2 separate regions of the Homo sapiens genome follow, and region 1 is linked to region 2. The links come from fine-mapping of genetic effects on gene expression. A gene starts in region 2. The other region holds a variant in brackets. All regions are shown on one strand. Distances are between the middles of the regions. Region 1 overlaps LINC02767 (long intergenic non-protein coding RNA 2767). Region 2 holds the start of LINC02767 (long intergenic non-protein coding RNA 2767).

The links. PIP is the estimated chance that this variant, and not a neighbour inherited with it, causes the effect. A credible set is the group of variants that fine-mapping cannot tell apart.
Region 1: its variant is the best candidate, but not a certain one, in a credible set for the expression of LINC02767 in ovary (GTEx, PIP 0.53).

The regions. Positions count from the first base shown.
Region 1 is chr1:207,967,173-207,970,083 of GRCh38, forward strand. LINC02767 (long intergenic non-protein coding RNA 2767) reads left to right here. Exons shown (of 3, transcript NR_167983.1): 3 at 285-970. Among named protein-coding and RNA genes, the nearest start is that of LINC02767, 9.6 kb to the left of the region's middle. The variant C/A (reference allele first, on the strand shown) is at 1,564.
Region 2 is chr1:207,957,488-207,960,398 of GRCh38, forward strand. It overlaps LINC02767 (long intergenic non-protein coding RNA 2767), which reads left to right and starts at 1,504. Exons shown (of 3, transcript NR_167983.1): 1 at 1,504-1,588; 2 at 2,628-2,752. RefSeq lists enhancers at 975-1,476, 1,477-1,976.

The DNA.
Region 1 (2,911 bases), 9.7 kb after region 2:
GAAATAGGGTCTTTGCAGATGTAAACTGGTTAAGATAATAAAAAAAAAAATAAATAAATAAAGGTAATGGCAACAATGAAAAAAAAAAGTAAGTCATCCTGGGATAGGGTGGGAGAGCCCTAATTCAATGTGACTGGTGTCCTCGAAAGAAGAGGGGAATTTGGACACAGAGACACAGCTGAACTTACTGAGCAGAGCCTCCCAGATGCTGCAAACTCAAGGAGGCCTCTGTGCTCATATCTTTATTCTCTCTCTCTCTCTCTCTCTCTCTGTCTCTGGTACAGCGTTTATGCTTTTTGGCAGTTCTTTCCTCTTCATTCCCCCATCTCTCCAATTACACATTCATATACACATAAACACTCCGATACCCTCAAACTACCAGAAGCCACGTCAGAGACTTGAGAACTTTGGACCAGGAACTGATGGAGACAAAGATGACCTAGGAAGATGGCTACATTGGGAATGGAGGCAGAGATTGGAGTTATGTGGCCACAAGGGAAGGAACTCCTGGGGCTCCCAGAAGCTGGAAGAAACAAGGATCCTTCCCCTATAGGCTTTGGAGGGAGCGTGGCTCTGCAACACCTTGGTTTTGGACTTCTAGCTCCAGAAGTGTAAGAGAATAAATTTCTGTGATCTCATATTCAGTTCATGGTGCTATATCATGGTAGCCCTAGAAACTAAGATACACAGGTATGTTGGATGTATGGGTCAGGCCCACACCCAGGGTGCATACGGCCTTTGGTTAAAAAAAAACTCTCATTTCTGTGGGGAATCCATTGCCAGTGGTCTGGATGACATGGCCACTGCCTCTCTTCAGGGATGTGCACAAGACCCTGGCCTGGCCAATCAGAATACCTCATGCCCAGGACCACAGTAACTGGGTCAGGGGTTGTCAAGATTTATATAAATGATTTACATAAAATGTTTAAATGTTTTGTTAAAATATTTAAAATAAAAAATGTTTCTAAGATTTCAGTTGCCAATTGTTTTTTGTGAGTATATACAAATACAACTGATTTTTACATATTGGTTTTGTATCCTGTATACTTGCTAAATTCATGCATTAGTTGTATTTTTCTAGATTTCTTAGAATTTTCTATGTACACAAATCACAATGTCTGTGAATATACACGACATTACTTCTTCGTTTCCAAAACTTATGCTTTTCACTTCTTGTTCTTGCCTTGTTGCACTGGGTAGAACCTCAGTTGTATATTAAATATATTTTTTAAAAAGGTAGACATTTGAGCCTTGTTTCCAATCTTGGGAAGACACTATTCAGTCTTTTGCCCTTGTCTGCTTCTAAGCTGCCAAAGCCTGTGCTGTGGTGGGGAAATGTCACTCTGTGGGCCAGCCATGGTGTGAGTGTGCAGATGGGACAGCAGCAGCAGGTGCATTCTCCTGGGAGGCCAGGCCTGGTGGCAGGCATCTGTAATCCCTGCTATTTGGGAGGCTGAAGCTGGAGGGTGGCTTGAGCCTGGGAGTTCGAGTCCAGCCTGAGCCACACAGCGAGACACTGTCTCTTAAAACAAAAAATAAAAAACAAAACCAACAACCCCCACG[C/A]CTGCCTGCCAAATTTTCCTGGGGAAGGCAAGACACACAATTAAGAAAGTAAACATTATGTCATCCTTGTCTGTATCTCAGTAGCCATAGTTGTGGATTCCTTCAGTTCTCTCTTGGTAGAAGGTGGGGCCTGAATAAATGACGACATAAAGCCAGCTGAACTTAGTGAGCAGAGCCTCCCAGATGCTGCAAACTCAAGGAGGCCTCTGTGCTCAGATCTTTATTTTCTCTCTCTCTCTCTCTCTGTCTCTGGCACAGCGTTTATGCTTTTTGGCAGTTCTTTCCTCTTCAATCCCCCATCTCTTCAATTACACATTCATGTACACATCAACACTCCGATACCCTCAAACTACCAGAAGCCACATCAGAGACTTGAGAGCTTTGGACCAGGAACTGATGGAGACAAAGACGACCTAGGAATGGTTGCTTGCCCTACCCTCAGGAGTTTACAATTACTGATAGAGACAGAAGTCTTTGCAGGAGGTGGGGGGCGGGGGGTAGGAGAAACTTTACAAACACACCTGTCAGCATACACAGGGATAATAATAGGAAAGGGGGTTTTCATACAAGGGAAGCATCTGGAAACTGGGAGGGTCCTACAAAGCTGTATAATCCAGCGTCTGTTGAGATGCAGGAGACCACCCCAGCTCCCAGGCCTGCCTTGATAAACACCTTGAATTTGCAAGATGAAGTTTGAGGATGGGTAGGAGATGCTAATTATAGCCTATATTAATGAAGCTATAAAGTAAATAATTGTAGCCTCCTATTACCAAGCACGAAGGGAATATTTTGGGTAATCTAAGTGGAAAGTCCAGAGCGTAGGTCTGGCTTTAGGCATGGTGGAGTAGTAGCCTAAGGCTCACATCCTACCAGTTAGCAACCAACCCCAGGAAGAGTAAAGCTCCTTCCCCACTAGCTTTGGCAGAAAAGTCCTATAGGAAGATCTGATTAGCTGGGTTTGGGTCACATGACTACCCCAACCCAATCACTGTGACCAAGGGCATGAGATATTCTGATTGGCCAGGCTAGGGTCTTGTGCCCATCCCTGAAGAGGGGCAGTGGCCATGCCATCCAGACCACTGGCAATGGATTCCCCACAGAAATCTTTTACTGGAAGAAGTAGGGAGCTCAGTTCCGGACAGGCAGCACAATTGCAGCCTATGACACCCTCTAAGCCTTAACTCCATGTATGACTGTATGAAGCAAATGACTTATCCTCATGATGCATGTTTCTTCATCTGAAAGAGCGGTCATAGTTTTGATTTATGTTATATTTACACAATGCATAGCATGAAGCCGATGGTCAAGAATGCACTCTGAGATGTTAGGGGGTATTCTATTCAACTGG
Region 2 (2,911 bases):
TTGCTTCTAGCTGATACACAGGCTTTTCTGGAACAGTGGTTTTCAAAATTTCTTTGTGCATCAGAGAATCTCCTGAAGGGCTCCTTAAAAATTGCTGGGCTCAAAAGGACAACATATGAAGCTTAGGAGTGAAGGGACTTCCTGAGCAGAAATGGGCAAACTTCAGTCTTTTTACTGTGTCTTTGCAGTATTCTATAGATAATTTCCTTAATTTGTAAATTTAGTGACCATTAGCTAGTGATCATTTGATGGGCAGCGATTCTAACAGTATAAAGTCCACAATGTTCTATGTCCCTAGCCTGCCGTTTTTCAGCTGCATGTAAAAGGGGGTAGGATGAGATAATCGACCATTATAAAGATTTAACTATTTTATGCTGAAGCGGCCATATTTTCAAGGGATGACACCATCTTGCACACAACAATGAAGGTACTCGGCCATAGACTTGGAGTGAGACCATATATGGGGATGAGATTCTTCTAGATCCTAATACTGCTGTACTGGCCTGTGTGTACATGGGGTCCTTCAGCTGAGGCCTTGCAAGGCAAGCCAGCTGTGCCATGTTTGTAGATGGGGCAGAGGAAGCTAGAACAATGGAAAAGTAACCTATTTATGCTAGGTCCACCTATTGAAACGAGGTAGGAATGAGGCTAGGGTCCTTAACTTCCTTCAGGCATACTTTTCTAGCTACCTTCTGCCCTGTGTCTGGTACCTACATCCTTGATGATTGTTCTCTTTCATCCATTGTGGAGATATATATATGTATGAAAAGCAAAAAAAATAAATTGCTGGGCTGGCACTACCTCAAAGCTTCTGATCCAGGAGGCCTAGGAGGGGGCAGTTAAGATGCATTTCTTACTAGTTCCCAGGTGATGCTTCTGCTGCTAGTCTGGGCACCACACTTTGAGAATCACAGCTCTAGGGCTAGGGGTGCTAATCTTCATTCCAAATGGAAAGGAGGCTGCTAAGGAGTCCACTTAAGTAATTTTTCCTGCGATAAAGACTTGCTTCCTTGTCACTTGCTGTCAACACCCCTCCACACAGCAGCGACTGCCTGGCTTAATTCTTAAAGTAGAGGCCTCTCAATAGACAGGGTGGACACTTCTTCGCCTCCTGGCAGGAGAGAGAAAGAACGGACTTCAATCTTTGGTTGGCAGGGCCTGACTAGGCAGTCGGGCACAGAACCCTAGGGCTTTCCCACCCCTTTGCTTTCTCACTTGTAAAACGAATAAAGGTACTGGTCCTGCCAGCTTCACAGGTTGCTGTACATAGAGGAATGGTTGGTTGAAAGTGCCCTGCATAACGCAAGCTCTTTAGGACTCGCAAACAGCCTTAATCGCAGTAAGGGGGCACATCAGGGCTGTGAGAAGGCCCCCTTGAGGGCTCGGCACAGGTGATTCTGGGCTCTCTGTGCTTGCCAGCCTCCTAAAGTAGGTGCCCACTTTCAGAAGCTCTGCACGCCCCACCTGGGCGCCTCTGCTGGAGGTCTGCCTGGCCCGGGGCACCCGTGTGCGCGCGAGGATTTCTTTTGCAGAGAATGAAACCACCGTTCCTTTCCGTCCGTGGTCTACTCCGGGGTCCCCATCCCACGTAAGTGCTGTGGAACCCCGGGGTGATGAGCCCCGGGGGAAGCCAGCATCTCTTGCCCTCCAGTGCCGGCGCCCGGCAGAGCCCCGGGACTCCTAGTTTTTGCCGCCGCTGAGGACGCGGCGCGGGCTGCTGGCCGCGTCGCCGAGGGAGGGCCCGGACAGCCCTGCAGCGCGTCTCAGCGGAGCCCTGGGGGCCGCGCCGCTCCTCCAAACATGATTCAGAACCGCCCGTCAGCCTTGGCTCCAGCGCCTGGCGCGAGCGAACCGGGCTTGGCTGTCTCGGCCCCGTCTGAACCCTGCGGGCCGCGGGCCAGGGCGCGCCGGGATCCGCTGCGCCAGGACCCTGCAGACCCGGCCGCGGCCGGGCCGAGTGCCTCCCGCCGGGGCCTTACGCCCACGGTCCACGCTTGCAACACCAGGGCTGTACGGCGGGTCCGCAGCTGGGTCTGCGCCTGGGACTCGGGGCTCCCTGCGCTCCTCGTGCCGCACCCCTTGCCTTAACCCCAAGCGGACGGGTCCTGGGGCTTCACCGGCCAGGCCGGAGCCCCAGCCCCACAACTCCCCCCCTCCCACCGCACTGCCCCCTCTGCGCTGTGGCGGGAGTTGGGGACTGGGGCCGGAGAAAGGAGACGCGCCGGTCCTCAAGTCTCTTGAGCCATTTCGGTTCCGGGCGCGCCCCCCAGGGCTGCAGTCGCGCGAGGTTCCAGATAGTGCAGCTGTGTGGCGCCAGGCTTCCAGCGGGTTCTTGGTGGGGGTTCCCTCTCTGTGAGTCGGTGGGCAGAGATTTGCCTTGGAGGGTCGCACCTGGCTACAGAAGTATGAGACTTAGTTTCCGGGGAGCAGAGGGGCCTTGGGATAAGGAACTGAAGCTTCTGGGGAGTAGTTTGGAATTTTGGTTCCACCAATTATCAGCTGTCCAACCTGGAGAAATCCACTCCCCCTGTTTTCTTGGTTATAAATAACTATAGCTACCATTTGAGTGCTTATTATTTTCCATGTACTTTACGTATGTTATTTTTATCTTTCCAACGATTTTACAGGCCATATTCTGCTGATGGAGAAATGGGATCTCACCCAAGGAAAGTGACTTGCCAGGGTTACACCACTGGTAAGTGGAGACCTATGACTTGAACCTGTCTCTAACTCCAGAGACTGTACTTTCTCGGTAAGTGAGAACATTGACGCCATACAAAGAATTTTAAAACTGTAAGATGGTGACGGATACCATTCTCTTCTGACCTGTCCTCAGGCCACGTCCTGAAGTCCAGGCTGAAAGCATGACCTTTCTTTCTCCCTACCTCCTCAGCCACGCTTCCCTAGGCGG